Homo sapiens: one gene and its partners. The protein of the gene in region 3 interacts with the protein of the main gene of each other region in a biochemical or structural test. Each region holds a gene or a part of one and is shown on either strand. Other genes may lie near its edges.

Region 1 (7,853 bases), about 82 Mb from region 3:
GTGATCCACCTGCTTTGGCCTCCCAAAGTGCTGGGATTACAGGCGTGAGCCACTGCACTCTGCCGTGTTTATTTTTTAGAGACAGAATCTAGCTGTGTCACCCAGGCCAGAGTGCAGTGGAGCGATCACAGCTCACTGCAGCCTCAAACCCCTAGCTCCAGATACTTTAAAATCAACACTGAGGTTGATTGTGAGAGGCCCCATTACTGGATGGTACCTTGGTCCCACCTGCTCCTCACCACCTACCCCACCCCACCCCACTGAGAATTACTTTCACTGAATTGAGCTTGGCCTTGAAGCCATCAGCTCGTGGGTGTGTGCATGGAGTTATAGGATGTAGTCTGTGTTTTATGTGTAGCCCCTGCCCTGCCTCTGAACACATCTGTACACGTAGATTTTCCCATGATATGTATGGTGTTTTGGCTTGTGTGTGTGTGTGTGTGTGTGTGTCTGTGTGTGGCTGCGTGAGAGACCCTCTTCTAAAGTAGATCCCATGGCCCCGCTCAGAGTCCAGCCTGCCTGAGTTCTCACACTCCTCACACTGTATACAGGAAACAGGCTGATTTGCAAAGCCACACCACAAGTGTGAGGGAATGGGTGGTTCACTGGCCCACCAAGGTGCTGAGTGGGCATAATTTGGGTGTGGACAGCCCTCCCTTTGGTGCATCATTTGCAGGGGGAGGGAGTGCCCCACCTCCCTTAAACACCTACTATGTGCTGGCCAGGTGCGGTGGCTCATGCCTGTAATCCCAGCACTTTGGGGGGCCGAGGTGGGCGGATCACGAGGTCAGGAGATCGAAACCATCCTGGCCAATATAGTGAAACTCCATCTCTACTAAAAATGCAAAAATTAGCTGGGCATGGTGGCGCGCCTGTTAATCCTAGCACTTGGGAGGCTGAGGCAGGAGAATCACTTGAACCCGGGAGGCATTTTTGTTTGAGATGGGGTTTCGCTCTGTTGCCTAGGCTGGAGTGCAATGACTCGATCTCTGCTCATTACAACCTGTGCATCCCGGGTTCAAGCAATTCTGCCTCAGCCCCCTGAGTAGCTAGGATTACAGGCACCTGCCACCACGCTCGGCTAATTTTGCATTTTTAACGAAGACAGGGTTTCACCATGTCGGCCAGCCTGGTCTCAAGCTCCTGGCCTCAAATGATCTGCCCGCCTCAGCCTCCCAAAGTGCTGGGATTACAGGTGTGAGCCACCGTGCCCAGCTTGATTATTGCCTCTTTACAGATAAGTAAACTGAAGCTCAGAGAGAGAGATGAAGCCACTTGCTCAAGGAAATGGTCCAGCGGAATTGTGACTGGGTCGGCCTGTCTCTGAAATGCACATTCTCTGCTCCACACCACACCTGTGGGCTCTCTGGCCTTTGGTCTTGCTCTGAGGTCTCTGCCCTCGTGGTACCCAAGGAACAGAATCCAGGGATAGTGACCTTGGCTTCATGTCCTACGCACTCTTGAAAATGGGTCTTTCTCCTTCTCAGAACTGTCTTGACTCTTGCAGGAAGCTTTCCAGATCTTAAGAGACACCTTCTCCCCTCCTCTGAACCAATGCTCAGCCTGTTCTTGGCCCTTGTCCACTTGGCCCTTCTCTCTTTGAGAAGAGCCTCTGTTCCTGGGGCCCAAGAGCAAGGGACCCTGTCTGATTCGTCTGTCAGCATAGGGCTGGGTGGAAGGAACTGCTCATGCCTGTCCAGGGTGAATGACCCTCCCTGAAGTGCGAGGAGAGCCACCATGTTCCCTAGCCCCCACAAGAGGCTACAGGACTTGGAGCTGTAGACAGGAGAAAGGCTGGGACCAGCTGACTAGGCGGAAAGTGTGTGTCAAGAAAAACTCCAACGAAGCAGGGGAAACCTGGAAATCTGGCTGAGTGAGGACTTCCCAAAAAAATTAAGGCTCAGAGTTAAAAAGTGAGGAGGTGAGCAGGTAGCAACTATGCCTCCCCAGTCTCTCTCCACCTCCCTGGGGTTTGAAGCAGGAATCAGCAAAACCAACTGGCCCTACACAGGCAGGGCTGAAGCGGGAGGGAGCCAGGGGCGAGGGGAGGACATCCTGCTGTGACGCTTGGCAGGGGCAGGAATGGTGACTTTCCAGATGGAAGTTCAGCGCTTCCTCACCCAGGACCAACTGCACCCCTGTCTGGGATAAAAATAGTACTTCCTCTTCCTTTCTCCCATCATTCTCTTTCACTTCCAACTTCCCATACTCAGATCAGATATGTCCATCCACCCTGGAGCTCCATCCCAGATGATGGACACCCCCACACATATCAGTTCACGCCCATCAGGAGATTCTTCCCTCGATCGCTGAGGCTAAAATCACTCCTCGCATGTCCATCTGGATGCCTTGGGTGATCTCTGTCTCTCTCTCTCTCTCTCTCTCTCTCTCTCTCTCTCTCTCTCTTTCTCAGGAGATTCTTGTCACTGGGGTCTGCCCCAGAAACCAGAAGGATTCCTGGGTCCTCTGAGTCCAGCCTGTCCATCACCCTGCTCCAGGCGGGGTGGCCACAGCCTCAGCCATCACTCTCAGCCCTGCCACTGCCTTGCTGAGAAACCGTGGGCAGTGAGTGCCTTGTTCTCTCTGGGCCTCAGGAGCCTCATCCTCATGGCCTGAGGGACTGGGCTTGGTGGTTTCTGGAAGCCTTTTTAACACCTGACTGTCCATGTGCCTGGTGTCCAGGAAACACGCTCCCAGTCAGGTGGGGCCACTGGTGGACAGCACGACAGAGGCAAGCGACACCAGCTTCGCAGGAAAGAGGCGACCCAGCTACACTGCCTGCCTCCCACCTGACCTTGAGCGAGGATCTTCTCTCCCCAGCCACAAAGGGCTGCTGCATCCCTAGGGAGCCTGGGCCCGCACAGCTGCAGCCGTCTGCTATCAGGCCTCTCACCCCGGCGCCTGCGCCCCCAATACCAGCGCTCCTTACCTGCCCAGCCCGGGAGCCCTCTGGCCCCATTCACATGGTCCTCCTGGCCTAACCTGGCTGCCTGGACAGTCTCAGCTCCCTTCGCCGTCGTAGCCACCACCTGTCTCCCCGCGCCCACGTCCCACCCTGACTTCCTGCCTCCTCCGGAGGGCTCCGCAGCCAACCGGGCCCCAGCAGCCCAACCACAACCCTCTAGCACGCCAAGCTTCCTGCCACCATAGACCCCTGCCTCTCAGCCCCTGGGGGTCCCCTACATCTCCAGACCAGGTCCATCTTCCCCTACTGTCCCAGGGTGACACTGGGAGGTTTAAAGTTGAGGGGAGGATGTCTGATAGACCCTCCCTTCTGCCCTCCAGGGTGCATCTGGGCAAGAGATTCAAGGGCAGCCTTTGGGCCCAGTGAGCAGGGGGCAAGCGGACACACACTCAGCTTATGGTGAGAGGCAAACAGCACCTCAGCACCACCGTTGCAGCTGAGAGACCCTTTTGTTTCTGTCTGGCAGCAAAGGTAGCATCGTTCAGAGTCAGAGGAGAGGACAATATCCCTGTTAAATAGCTGGTGAGCAGACCATGCATGTTACAGTCAGGTCAGGCCGAGAGAACAATTCCCATGTCATCTCAGGGCATGGAACAGTAGCTTTATTATAGTCAAGGGTAGGTGAATGGCAGGCTACCATCCCTCTTACAGACAGAATGCTGGAAAACAGCCTGTTTCAGGAGGCAGACAGGACAACCTCATGTCTTCAAGAGGGCATAGTAACGGCCCCTGCTGTAGTCAGAGGCCAGGACAACACCCATTAATCATGGTTGGAGAGTAGGGCAACAGTTCGAATTCAGGTAGAGGCAAGGCCACAGCCCCTGGCAGAGGTGGAGGGCTTGGCACTATCTCCTGCAACAGGTGGAAGACAGAGCAAACAGGGCCGCTCAGGCCCCCAGGTGCAGGCCACAGACTGTCAGGACTTTCTGTTATAAGCAGGAGGCAAGAAGATTGTCACGAGCAGCAGGCAGGCAAAGAATTTCCATTTCCCCTGGGGCCAGGCTGAGGGGGCACCCATCATTAGCTGAGGGCCAGGTCACCAGTGATATGAGGAACTCCAGGTGGCCTCATCAGGTCCAAGAACTCGGCCTTGACCCCACCAGGAGGAAAGTGCACATGCGTCACTGCCTGAGTGAGCTGGTAGGGGGAGGGGAACCCACAGAGCATTGTTGGGGCTTGTGAGGTGGAAGCGATGCTGTGTGCACCTCAGCTGCAGAGAGAAGTGGGGGCAGGAAATAGGTGGGGGGAAGAGGAAGCCTGAGTTGGAAAGTCAGACAAAGAGGGTAACACAGAAACAAAGGCTGAGAGAGACAAAGTGAAAAACCTTCACAGTGACACAGAGCCTAGAGTTGGAGCTCCAAGCCTGGTGCAGGGCCCAGACTCCCTTGCAATGTAAGCCTGAACACTTCACGGTCCATCTCCCTGTCTCAGCACAGAGTAGAAAGACTGCCGCGCTGGGAGTGAGTAATAGTTCATATTCACTGAGCGCTCACTGTGCACTATCTCCCGTAAGGCACATCTGCTGCCTGTGGAGTGAGAATCAGCATCTCCATTGTGGAGGTGAGGAAACAGACTCAGGGGTTAAGGGAGCTCCTCAGGGTCGAATAGAAATAAACGGTGGCTCAGGCCTGTAATCCTAGCACTTTGGAAACCCCAGGCAGGTGGATCACTTGAGGTCAGGAGTTTGAGACCAGCCTGGCCAACATGCTGAAACCCTGTCTCTATTAAAAATACAAAAATTAGCCGGGCATGGTGGCGGGTGCCTATAATCCCAGCTACTCGGGAGGCTGAGGCAGGAGAATCGCTTGAAATCGGAAGGTGGAGGTTGCAGTGAGCCAAGATCGCGCCACTACTCCAGCCTGGGCGAAAGAGTGAAATTCCATCTCAAAAAAAAGAAAAAAAAAAGAAAAGAAAAGAAAGGAAATTAGCTAGGCGAGGTGGTGGCCACCTGTAATCCCAGCTACTTGGGAGGCTGAGGCAGGAGAATCGCTTGAAATCAGAAGGTGGAGGTTGCAGTGAGCCAAGATCGCGCCACTACTCCAGCCTGGGCGAAAGAGTGAAATTCCATCTCAAAAAAAAGAAAAAAAAAGAAAAGAAAAGAAAGGAAATTAGCCAGGCGAGGTGGTGGCCGCCTGTAATCCCAGCTACTTGGGAGGCTGAGGCAGGAGAATCGCTTGATCCCCGGAGGCGGAGGTTGCAGTGAGCTGAGATTGTGCTACTGCATTCCAGCCTGGGTGACAGAGTGAGACTCTGCCTCAAAAAAAAAAAAAAAAAAAGAAGCAGAAGAAATAACAACAACAAAAAGAAATAAACGGGGTAGCTGGCTTTGAACCCATGTCTCTCAGATTCTGCATTCTTCAGGAGCCCAATTTACCTAAGTCACCTCCCATGGGCCTGCAGTGAACTAGGGTGGTCCCAGTGACAGGCGACATTCAGATAGCGGCCTTGGGCCTGAATAAACGACTGCAAGAGACCTTGATGGGAACCAGAGAAAGCGTTTATTGAGGAGTTTGAGGGTGTGAGCTCCTCCTCCTCCCCCTCCCAGCTGGGTCAGCAGAGGAAACAGGATGCTGGGGTTTTGCACTCTTGGAATTCAGCTCTCAGAAACCTGAATGTTCCTCCTCCCCCGCCAGGAGCTGGTGCCTCTGGGGCACCCCTCCCTTTCCTCTTCCCAGGCAGGCAGGGGAAGCGGCATTGGGAGAGGGGGCGGGGAGTCGGGGGGCACAGGTGTTCCTCAGCAGAGGGTGAAGCGCCGGGCGCTGATGTTCATGCGCGTGAGGCCCAGGTGCCGCAGCAGCGGGGCCAGGGCTAGGCCGGCCCCGGGCTCCAGCTCCAGCTCCAGCTCGGCCTCATCCAGCAGCTCCTGGTGCAGGTGACAGGCTTGGTCCATCTTCAGTCGGTGCAGCTGGGCCCGCAGCCGCAGCAGCTGCCCTGCCAGCTGCCTGTCCTGCGCCTGCATCTCCCGCTGCGGCCGAGAGGGGGCGTGAGCCTACTGGACAGGCCCTCGGCCGCGCGCCGTTTCTCCCTTCCTGGCAACGCTGGGCCTTTGCACTGACTGTGTCCTCCCCAGCCCCCTCTCACCTCAGCTTGATCTCTCCCTATCTCCCAATCTGGCTTCACCTGGTGGTTCTCAAACCCAGCTAAGGAGTCATTATTAAGCAAATCCAACTGCCTGGGCCCCATCCCAAATCAACTAAGCAGAATCTCTGTGTTGGAGCCTGGGTATCTTTATATTTGCACATGTTGAGTTGGGAGCCACCTACTGAAACTTCACCTCTTCAGAATCTGCCTGCAGCATGGCCAGTGCCTCCTTTTGCACTTCGCTGTATCTTTAGGCCATAGAAAGTCCCAGAGTAGGGGAGGCTGTGTATTTCCCTATTTATAATGGTGCCCCACACCCCCCAACACCAGTGCTCTGTCCCCTAAGCAACAGGAGCACAAGGTCAGTAGATTGGATGGAATCCTTCTTCAGCAAGCCTCCCTGAATACAACACTGGACAAGTCCATTCCCGGCTCCTCAGCCCAGGACACCGGAGCGGGCGGTTGCTGGAGGCAGGGTCCATTCTCATCCCTTCCCCATGCCTGTGGTCTTGGACCCTAAGGAGGACCAGCCTGAAGGCCCTGGGCAAAGCTGCCCACCCCACCAGACTCACCAGCTCCCGTCGGAGCCACTCAAGGGCGGAGTCCATTGAGTCGAAACCACAGATGTCCCCAGGTCCCCCTGGTCCAGGTTTGGCTTGGGCCCTGCGCCAGGCCTGGCTCTGGACCTGGGCTGTCCACTCCAGATATGAGGGCCGCCGAGTCTGCAGCTGCAGCTTGGCTGTCAGTGCCTTCACAGAGTCCAGGCTCTCCCCCTCCTCATCCTCCTCGTCCTCTTCACCCACTGCCTGGAATTTCAGTAGCCCCAGGGACATGGCAGGTTTGAGGTGAGTGACAGGGCAGGGCTGCAGCTCTGAGATTAGGGAAAGGCTGGCAGTATTGCCCAGGGAGAGGTGGCAGAAGTTGAGGGTGAGAAGAGCGTGCCAGGGAGTGTGTGGTGGTCAATGTTCAAGGTGGGTTAGGGGGGCTGAATGTGCCAGGGTGAGTGAGCAGATGGGTGTGTGAGGCCAAGTATGCAAGGGCTGGAATTTTCCTGGACTGCTAACTTGGGAGCCACGTGATGCCCATCTGGGTGGGGGCCGGAGGAACCCTGCTCCTCTGGCCCTTTGGATGAATTTTATTGTCTTTGCCCAGAAGGAGACACCCAATTCCCAGAAAGGAAGTTGCTCCAGGATGAGAAAAGCATCATTCATACCAGAGTCTTGGCCCTCCTCCCAAGACTCATGTTAAGGGAGCTGAGATCAGGAAGGAGGCTGCCTAGCCACCCCTTGTCCTTACTCGTGACACCAGCCCTTCAGGAAAGGACTAGCCTCCAGGGCCCTGGCCTGGGAGTCAGGAGACCTGAGTTCTAGTGCTGGCTCTGCAGAACCTTGGGCAAGTCACTGACCTTCTCAGAGCTCTGTTGGGACAGATGAAGGATTTCAAGCTAATACTCTAAGGAGCCCTCAAGGGCTGCCTGCAGGAGAAGGACAGAGCTGTGGATGGGCTCCTTGCCTTCCATCTCCCTGCCCCTCCCAGGGCTTCAACCAGAGCAGTTCCCTTTTTTAAACTTTGTTTTCAAACATAACATACACACAGAAGGACAGGTGCAGTGGCTCACGCCTGTAATCCCTGCACTTTGGGAAGCCGAGGTGGGCGGATCACGAAGTCAGGAGTTTAAGACCATCCTGGCTAACACGGTGAAACCCCGTCTCTACTAAAAATACAAAAAATTAGCCGAGTGTGGTAGCATGCATCTGTAGTCCCAGCTACTTGGGAGGCTGAGGCAAGAGAATCGCTTGAACCCGGG
Region 2 (2,821 bases), on a different chromosome or scaffold from region 3:
CACTAAATTGATGCAATTTGTCTTAATTCGTTCATTAGCTTTTAAAACAATTAATTTAAAAACAATGTTTGCATTTTGGTATTTTTCAGATTCAAATTCAGTAATACGGTTCATACGGGAGCTAATACGTGCATCTACCAATGAAAAGCATTGTATCTCATGATTTGCAAGGCACCCCTGGGGGGGTGAAGACCCCAGCTGGATGGGGGAGGGGGGGTTAGCGTTTGTTAAAATAGCTCCAGGTGATCCTAACGTGCACCTGGCATGGGGCACACTCATCTCCACACAGGGGAGCTGGGCTCAGCCAGGCACGCAGCCCTTGGGCCCACACCCGCCTGGCCTCAGGTTCCCCACTCCACCCCAGCCGCTCACTCACATGAAGGTGTCCCTAGGGTGGAGAGTGGGACCCAGCCCCATCTTCCCAGGGGTCACTTCCAGGCTCAGTCCACACAAGAACAGTCACCTCCATGCACTTTTCATAACCCACCCCTCCCCTGACACCTACCCTCACCCCGGAAAAGATGAGGGCGCTCAGACAAGAGGGAAGCTGGGTTTATTCTGGTGATCTACGCCTGACCACCTGAGGATGCCCAGGCTCCAATGTCAGGGCCCAGGGGAAGGCATCCGTGTAAGCAATGCCCTCAGCTCAGGGCCCTCCGGGAGCCACCAGCCCAGGACAGGCTGCACAGCCGCACCCTCCCGGACCTCCCTGCTCCCCAGCCAGAGAGGACAGGGGGCCAGGCAGGCAATGCAAGGCCGGTGTGGCCTGAGACACCCCCTACCACAGCCCAGCTGTGTGTGGAGACAACCAAGCAGGGCTCAGCCAGACTGCAGGACCTGGGGTGGGGCTGAGGGTGGGGAAGAGCCGGCGTGGAGGGCTCCCCTGGGCAGCGGGAGCTCAGGCACAGGCAGCCTCAGCCTTCTGTGTGCTGCCTGGGGGCCCTTCCACCTTGCTGGCCAGGCTGTAGTAACAGGCTCGCATGCGCTGCTCCACGGTCAGGAAGTCGGGGCGATCCTCCCACCTGTGGGGCGTGGGGTACATCCAGGCTGCTGACCACGCCCCCAGGACCCAGCTTCACCAGTGGGTGGGCATGCACTGTGCTTGGCTGAGGTAGACTTTTGGGGCTCAGAAAGTCAGCAGGGCTGTTGGGGTGGCGGGACATTGGGTGGTGGAGAGGACTCTGGGGTGTGAGAGCGTTGGGCAATGCCACACAGCCTAAGGAGGCAGAGCTGCCCACACACAGGGTGCTGGGATGACCCCTCTACCGAGCGTTGACCAGTGAGGACTCAGGGGACTGAGTGGACTTGGTGTCAGAGTGGCAACTATTGACCACGGGGACCTGGGATATAGAAAGCTGATGCTCTGTGCATGCACCTGGGGCCAGGGTATCAGTGTGCTGGGGCTTAGATGAGAGGGAGTGCAAGGCTGGTGATCAGCAGAAGCCTGGAGCATGGCAGTGGGTCTGGCCAGCGGGGAGCGGCAGTATTAACGGTACTGTGCATGGGGTATCCATGGACTGTGTTGGGGTGCTAGGTGCTAGCCTCTTTGGGTACTGGGGTGTGGTGCCCTGGGTGTTTCCTGATGGAGGTGGAATTAACACATGTCGCAGGAGGGTGGGCCAGCCAGAGAGGGTGTCTATCTGTTGGGCTGCTTGGGTGTTGGGGTGTCAGCATGCTAAGTGCTGGCCGGTGGGGGGTCATGCGTTACAGTGTCCACACATTGCATGGGCAGTCTAGGGCGTCCGCTTGTCTGGGGGTGTGTTGCCTGTTGTCTGATGGGAAGTTGGGATACTGATGGTGTTAGGAGTTGAGATGTCTGAAGGTTGGGCTTCAACCAGGCAGAGGTGGGGGCTGGAATAGATGAGTATTTGGTACCTCAGTGCTCACCTGTCTGGTAGTTGGGTGCTGTGTGCTGGCTGGTGGGGACTGGAGTGTTGGGTACTGGAGAATCATCTCATGCCCTGAGTGTCAGTGTCATAGGTTGAGTAGCAGAGTATGGACCTGTTTGCGTGTTGCAGGGTCCATGTGTTGAGTGATGGCTGAGGTTTTAGATGCTGAGGCACAGGCCCACAGGTGGGATGGCAGGGTGTGGCACACTGGAGCAGGACAGCAAACCCTGGTGTGTTGGAGAGCTGGGTGTGGGGGTAGGGGGCAGCTGCAAAGGCTATGAACTGGGTGAAGGGCTTTGGGTGAGATGACATTGGGTAGAGTTATATTGACATCAACTCATCGGGCACCAGGACTTTCCAGGGGTCAGCCCAGCCGGGTCCCCTCCCCACTGGCACTCACTTGTAGATCCAGCAGTCACTCATGAGTGCGTACAGTTCGGGTGGACACTCTGGTGGGCACTCCATCCGCTTGCCCTGCTCGATGAAGGCCATGACCTCCGGCCCTTTCATCTTCTGCTCAAGCCGGGGCAGAGACACCTGTGAGTGACCAGTGTCCTCCTCCTCATCCCCCTCCCCACCACACCGCCCACCTGCCTCTGCCCGCGCCTGCCTTGTAGGGCTTCTGGCCGTAGGACAAGGCCTCCCACATGGTGACCCCATAGCTCCAGACATCGCTGCGGCTGGAGAACTTGCGGAAGTTGATGCATTCGGGTGCGTACCACTTGAGCGGCCACTTCCCTGCTGAGCGGGCCTGGGGAGGGGGAGATGCTGCTGGATCAGGGGTCAGGGACCCTCTACCCACCCAGCCCATCCAGTCGGGCATCACAGGGGCAGAGGCTTACAGTGTAGTAGCTGTCGTCGGCACCCAGTGCTTTGGAGAGGCCAAAGTCGCTGATCTTGGCGTAGTGCCGGTTAACCAGCAGGACGTTGCG
Region 3 (6,846 bases):
TTAATATAAAAGTCAGGATAGTGATTATCCCTTGGCCAGGGTAGGACAGGACAGGGGCAGATGGGTGTAGGGGACCTGATGGGGCATGGGTCTTCGGGGGTCTGACAGTTTCTTGACTTGGGTAGTGGTTGCACTGCTAATGGTTGCTTTATAATTATACTTAAATGTTTTATGTACTTTTCTAAATGTGTATTATATTGCACAATATTAAGCAGCTAAAAAAAACTATAACAAGTTTTTAAGCAGGGAAAAAATGACCAGATTTGGCTGGGCGTGGTGGCTCATGCCTATAATCCTAGTACTTTGGGAGGCTGAGGCGAGTGGATTACCTGGTTGGACAGACCAGCCTGGCCAACATGGTGGAACCTTGTCTCTACTAAAAATACAAAATTAGCCAGGCGTGGTGGCTCATGCCTGTAATCCCAGCTACTTGGGAGGCTGAGGCAGGAAAATCGCTTGAACCAGGGAGGTGGAGGCTGCAGTGAGCCGAGATGGTGTCATTGCATTCCAGCCTGGGTGACAAGAGCAAAACTTTGTCGCCCCCAAAAAAAAGACCAGATTTGTATGATTAAAAGATCACTTGGGTGTTGAACTGAAAATTGACTGAAGGTGGGGCAAGGCTAGAGGCAGAGAAGCCAGTTAGGAGGTAGCTGCTATATTTTGGTGAGAAATTATAATGACTTTAGCTGAGAAAAGGTAAAATATTAGGGATATAGTCTACATTTTTTTTTTTTTGAGACAGAAGTTCGCTCTTGTTGTCCAGGCTGGAGTGCAACAGCTCTATCTCAGTTCACTGCAACCTCTGCCTCCCGAGTTTAAGCGATTCTCCTGTGTCAACCTCTTGAGTAGCTAGGATTACAGGTGCCTGCCACCACGCCCAGCTAATTTTTGTATTTTTAGTAGAAATGGGGTTTCATTATGTTGGCCAGGATGGTCTCAAACTCCTGACCTCAGGTGATCCACCCGCCTCGGCCTCCCAAAGTGCTGGGTTTACAGGTGTGAGCCACTGCCCCCGGCCAGTCTACATTATTTTAAAAAACACAACCAAAATAAAACAGAGGCCGGCACTGCCCCTCAGCTCACTTTTTACATCTATGCCTTGGGTTACCTTGGCTTAGGAATTATAGTCCAGGGGCAGGGACATGTATACACATGTGCTAGAACTTCCTACTTATCTCCTTTCAGGTAACTCTACCAGAGGGGCTCAGACTGATCAGCCAGTGGCAGTGAGAGCACATTTTTCATAGTACCACAAGATTATCCATGTTGAGCTGACATCGGAGTTCCTATCATAATATCTAATCACTCAATAATATCTAATTACTCAAGACTTTCAGAGTGTTTTCACATCTGCTATCCGGTACCAGAGTGTTAGCTCCAGGAGGCAAAGGTTTTGGTTCTTTTTGTTCACCGCTGTATTTTTAGTGCTTAGAACTGAACTTGGTACATACTAAGTGCTCAATAAATGGTACTCAATAAATGACCACATTTAATGATTGTTATTGATATTTAATCATCACAACAATCCTGTGAGGATAGGTAGGACATGTATTATTATCCCCATTTTATAAGTTAGAAAACAGAGAGATTTAAGAACATGTCAAATACTTCATAATTTGGTGAAAAAAAATCATGATTTAATTTCAGGTTTGTACTTCAGTTCCCCTCTTTCCACCCATTTCTTCACAACTGAAGAGCTAAGGTTTAAAATTCTTATATCTCTGAAACGCCAGCTGTAAGCATTCTAAAATACATGATAGGTACTATTAGACACCCTATGTTATCTGATATCTCAGCTTGTAGGGTGAATGAGGCCTACCCAGCTGCCATTGCATCAATAATCACAGTTCTCTCAAAGGAGATTCACTGTTCTTCTGGGTAATCTAATCCACCCAACCTGAAGCTACCTTGTACTCATGTTTCTCTCCTTGACCTACACTTGTCTCTACTCTCCATCCTAGCCATTCCACTTCTCCAAGCAAAAGAAGTTAAGGAAGCCCTGTTATTGAAAAAACACATGTTATAATATATTTTTCATATGAAAAAGAAAAGAAAAATGATGGCCAGACATAGTGGTTCATGCCTGTAATCCCAGCACTTTGGGAGGCAAGATGGGAGGATTGCTTGAAGCCAGGAGTTCGAGACAAGCCTGGGCAAAAAAGCAAGGCTCGTATCTACAAAAAAGAAAAAAACAATTTTTTTTTAAATTAGCCAGGCATGGCGATACACACCTGTGGCCCCAGCTACTCAGGAGGCTGAGGCAAGAGAATCACTTGAGGCCAGGAGTTCAAGGCTACAGTGAGCTGTGGTTGCACTGCTGCACTCCAGCCTGGGTGACAGAGTAAGATTCTGAATCTTAAAAAAACAAACAACAACAACAAAAAAAACTGTGGCAGTGGGTAGTTTTGGTGCTCTTCAAAAACCTTTGTCAACCAAATAGAATCCCAGAGGGGAGGCTAAAAATGTAATATTGCATGAAAAGTTAACATTGGTCTCTTTCTTCTTAATATTAATTAAAATTAGTAATATAAAGCATAAACCACAACTTAGATACCTGGGGAAATCTGGATGTTCAATTAATATTAGTGTTTTTACATCTGGAGTTGTATATGTCTTCTGTAGGATTCCTAACCAAACTCCAAAGAACTAGCAAACAAAATATTAAAACCAGTAATTTTGAGAGAATACCTGAAATACATGCAAACCACTCAGAGAAGTCAAACTTTTTTTTTTCTGTCTTCCCCGCCAAGGTCTCATATTTACTTTATCCCAAGAGCAATTTGGTCTCGGAAAATTGGACCCCCATAGTCAGTTAAATAGTGTATGTAACTACCCTGAGAGGGTCACATACAGGACTCACCAGAAATTCATTGGCAAACTCCTCTTTAGTAATTTTCTTGCTTTGGGCCTCATCCAGGAACTTCTGCAGAATTTCTCTTTGGTCCATGCTGCAGAGCAAGAAAAATAGTCTATAAGTAGGTTGAGGGAGGGCATGTCAAATGTGTGTCATGGCCGAGACACCTCCAAAAAGCCACTGCTGCCGCCTGAGCAGAGCATGCTGAAGGCTGTGGTTTACTGACTTCATCACAAGCCCTAGAGGAAATTAGTACGTAACCACCTTCTGTGGTCACATAACACAGCCATCATCTCACTCCAGGGCCCTAGTGCCTTCCTTCTCAGCAAAGGAACCTGGTTACAATTCAAATTTTTAACAAACAAGAGGCTAACTAGAACGTAAAGTGTGGTCTGCTTAACTGAGATTATTCCATTCCATCACCCATATGCAAAACTCACCTTTCTTCTTGCCTCCCAGAGAAAGAACAGAATTACAGGTCTCCTGAATGAGTTCTGTCTCTCCCCATTTTCCCAGTGAGCACAAGGGCCAAGTTGACACCTTCTGTTTCCTTATGTCCCAAATGAACTCTGCAAAGTTCAGTTAGGCCCAGGAAAGAAGACAGACACTGTTTAGAGTGAGTGACATGTCTTCTACCCGGACTGTTCATCGAAAGGTTTCTTGTCAGTGTGATCAATGAGAAACTTCTGTTCATCACAGAAGGTATTTTTATTCATAACTTTTAAGTCTGCTATATATACCTCAAACTCCCTTTTGAATGAAGCAAAGTCAGATGCTTCTGACAGTCTGTGTCTCTCCCAGGACTGGGGAAGTGCTGACCTCCATTAAGGGAAGTGTTGATTTCAGCACCTCTTCAACCCTCCCAGTAACCTTTGAAGCTTCACTTGGGTTCTGGATATAAAGACTAAGAGTGTTGGTCTATATAGGATCTAGAGCAAGTGGCCCCCACAAGGAGCACCTGACCAGACAGTTAGCTCAATACCCTGCATATGTAATGCTGGTAAACTGTGATGGAACAAAAAGAAAGTAAAATCAACCACCTTGCTGACAACATTGTAACTTTTAGGGCAGAAAGCCTGAAGAACTGTTTCTAAAGAACACATTTCTACTCTGCAACCAATGTCTTAGGAAATAAATTTGTTTCAGGAAGTTATGCTGTGCCTGTGGCATTTTGGCCCTGAAAGGCAGGCTCTTCTAGAAAAACTTTCCACATTTGAGCTTGCATAACCTCTCAATGGGTACAAGTCTACCCAAGTGCCTAATTCAGTGTGAGAACATCCAAAAATCAGTATATCATCTTTATTGAAGGCAGAAGTTCAACAAATGTTAACAAAATTAGTCTTGATCCTGAAGAAAACTGGGAAATGTGTTGTTAGGACTTCCTCTATTTAAGATATTAGCAATCCTTTCTGTTTTGCAACATTATTCAAACTTCCTTCAGGATATCATGATTCTGAACACTGCTTAATCTGAACATTAAAGATACTGCATGCTCTTTACTAAGTACTGCAAAAAAAAAAGAAAGATCATCGAGATATCTTGGTTATAGACAACTTAAAGACAATATTTCAAATTAAGAAACTCAATCCCAGTATACATAAATTAAAATAAACCCTCATTCTTCAGCAATATTTGTTAGGAATAGTATATTTCTTAAATTATCCCCATCTAGAATTAAGAGAGAATTTCTTGCTGCTCTAAGTAACGTGATGTTTACTTTGGCTATTTTAAAACATAAAATATGGGAAATCTTTGATTTATAAAAATACAAAATTTCAAGTTTGTAATAACTAAAACCATGTAAAAGTGTGTACATAGTTAAAGACTAAAAGAAGCAAAAAAGAATCAATTGTGTAAGTTTGCTTTCTAAAATTATCATAATTTTAGAATTATGATAAAGTTTGCTTTCTAAAATTATCATACCGTTTTTAAAATTAGAAATAAACATTTAAAAATCCATTAAGTTGTTCAACAAATTTATTGAGTACCCACTAAATTCTAAACATTGTCTTAGGAGATTGGCATACAACACTGAGAAAGCCAGAATATGGTAAAAACAAAACAAAACAAAACAAAAACATCCTTAGCCAGTTAATAAAGCAACTCAGAACTAAAGATACAGACATGATTACTGATAAAAATTAAAACACTCCTTAGGTAACTTTGGGAAAGAAAATAAAAATAAAAACATTCCAAACTAACTTGCTTAATTGCAGAGTAGCAAAGCATAATCCTAAAAGGAAAATGATTTTCTATGTTTGGACAAAGAAGATAATATAGTTTTATAATTTCTCTGTACCCTTAGAATGTCCTCAATTACACAAAACTAGAACTTTATTAATTTTTATTAATTGATGAGGCAAACCTGCCTAATAAAATTTAAATCTATTTTTCTCAAGCCTATATTTCAGCACAATCTCTTACTAACTTTCTTGTTTCTTCTTAATGAGGGAGAAGACAGAAATAAATAGGAGATAACAAAAAAAATTTTGCTTAGATGCCTCCATAGTCCCTTTCCTCAAAATCTAAGAATCTGTAAATAGTGTCTTGGCAGAACTTCACACTTTTTTAAAAAAGCAAGCAGCAATCTATTCTACTGTAAACCCAAAAGGTATAGAGACATTGTGAAATAACCAAACCCCCAAAACCCACTTAGCTACAAGGCCATTTCCTGAGCAGACCACTCAAGCAAGCAAAAAACAAACTGAAGAAGAAAACAAAAAACTTTAATTATTTTTTTTGTTTTGGGTTTTTTTGTTTGTTTGTTTGTTTTGTTTTGAGACAGGGTCTTGCTATGTTACCCAGACTAGTCTGGAACTCCTGGGCTCAAGTGATCCTTCCACTTCAGACTTCCAAGTAGCTGGAGCTATTATTTTTTTTTTAAAAAAATAAGCTACTACTTAATTTATCACACTTCCTTCTACAGAGCACAATGCTTTTTGATGAAGATTGTGTTGACTCATTTGTATCTTGCGGGAAGATAAAGAGCTGGGGAGGGGAAACAAGACATGCAGTAAAGGTTGGCAAATACCTAAAAGAGTTTCAGAATTTATGATGAATCATTTAAACCAGTCTGGCATAAAACCTAAGTGAACACAATTCCATGCAATAAAAAAAGACTCACAAACATTTTGCCAGAACCATCAAGTAAATTGTGGGAAGTAAATTGTGGATAAGCACCTGAAGAGGAGTGACAAGGCCACATCTCACTGCTGCCTCATGTGGCTGTAGTGCTTGGTCAGAAGGAAGAACACAACAGAGAAGAGTGCTGGTCACCATGTCACCTGTTCCAAGAAGAGGGGAGTATGCTAGTTTAAGGGGAAATATCAGTATCACAGAGGTCAGGAATTAGATTACAATAAACATTAATTGAGGAGAATTTCAGGGAAGACTACAAGGGTAAGATAAACTATTCAATAGGAAAAACATTCAGGATTCTCAGAACATCCTTCTGTCTTTTAGATGAGGGGGAGACATGTTTTACCCTGGAGAAGATACTTACCCAACCTTAGCTTTAGTTTCACTACTCTTGCCTTTCCCTACATTCCAGGGTCATTGATTTGATATGGGATATATATACTGTCTGTGAAACATTCAGTCCTTTGTAAGCATTCTTTTGATCACCAAGGCCTATTGGAAATTTCTCCTCAATGTCTTTTAGATTCAACCTGTCTTTTCCATTCCCACTTAGCCCCATTCCCACTTTCACACCCGGATTCCTATAGCAATAAACTTAGAGTATCTTCCTATCTATATGTTTCCATTCTAGTATCTCCTGTTAACCAAGGCTGGATGAAAGTTCTTAAAACTGCACTTTAATGCTAAAGAATCAGAATAGTTATTGATGATCTACGGGAACAAGTCCAGATTCCTTAGCTTGTCACCAAGCCCCTCCCTGTCAACTATCCCCACCCAACCTATCCAAGCACATCACCTACAGACCTCGTTCGTTCTACTACCACTTTTTTCTACTTCTCACCTTTACCCCTAAG

Evidence for each region.
Region 1: of the proteins of PTPN22 (region 3) and LCK, one has a biochemical effect on the other in vitro, tested with the Homo sapiens proteins (3 studies listed by IntAct, with this or other methods).
Region 2: the proteins of PTPN22 (region 3) and ZAP70 form a complex in vitro, tested with the Homo sapiens proteins (one study listed by IntAct).

Annotation. Positions count from the first base shown.
Region 1 is NC_000001.11:32,246,448-32,254,300, reverse strand, and holds the start of LCK (tyrosine-protein kinase Lck), read right to left. Parts: upstream 3,037-7,853; 5' UTR 2,930-3,036; intron 1-2,929. Other genes in the region: protein FAM167B, read right to left, coding at 5,700-5,930, 6,619-6,879. UniProt on the Homo sapiens protein: Non-receptor tyrosine-protein kinase that plays an essential role in the selection and maturation of developing T-cells in the thymus and in the function of mature T-cells. Plays a key role in T-cell antigen receptor (TCR)-linked signal transduction pathways.
Region 2 is NC_000002.12:97,737,576-97,740,396, reverse strand, and holds the end of ZAP70 (tyrosine-protein kinase ZAP-70), read right to left. Parts: coding exon 2,732-2,821; intron 2,641-2,731; coding exon 2,500-2,640; intron 2,403-2,499; coding exon 2,290-2,402; intron 2,097-2,289; exon of another isoform or gene 1,888-2,096; intron 1,023-1,887; coding exon 899-1,022; 3' UTR 537-898; downstream 1-536. UniProt on the Homo sapiens protein: Tyrosine kinase that plays an essential role in regulation of the adaptive immune response. Regulates motility, adhesion and cytokine expression of mature T-cells, as well as thymocyte development.
Region 3 is NC_000001.11:113,868,677-113,875,522, forward strand, and holds the start of PTPN22 (tyrosine-protein phosphatase non-receptor type 22), read right to left. Parts: upstream 3,037-6,846; 5' UTR 2,948-3,036; coding exon 2,861-2,947; intron 1-2,860. UniProt on the Homo sapiens protein: Acts as a negative regulator of T-cell receptor (TCR) signaling by direct dephosphorylation of the Src family kinases LCK and FYN, ITAMs of the TCRz/CD3 complex, as well as ZAP70, VAV, VCP and other key signaling molecules.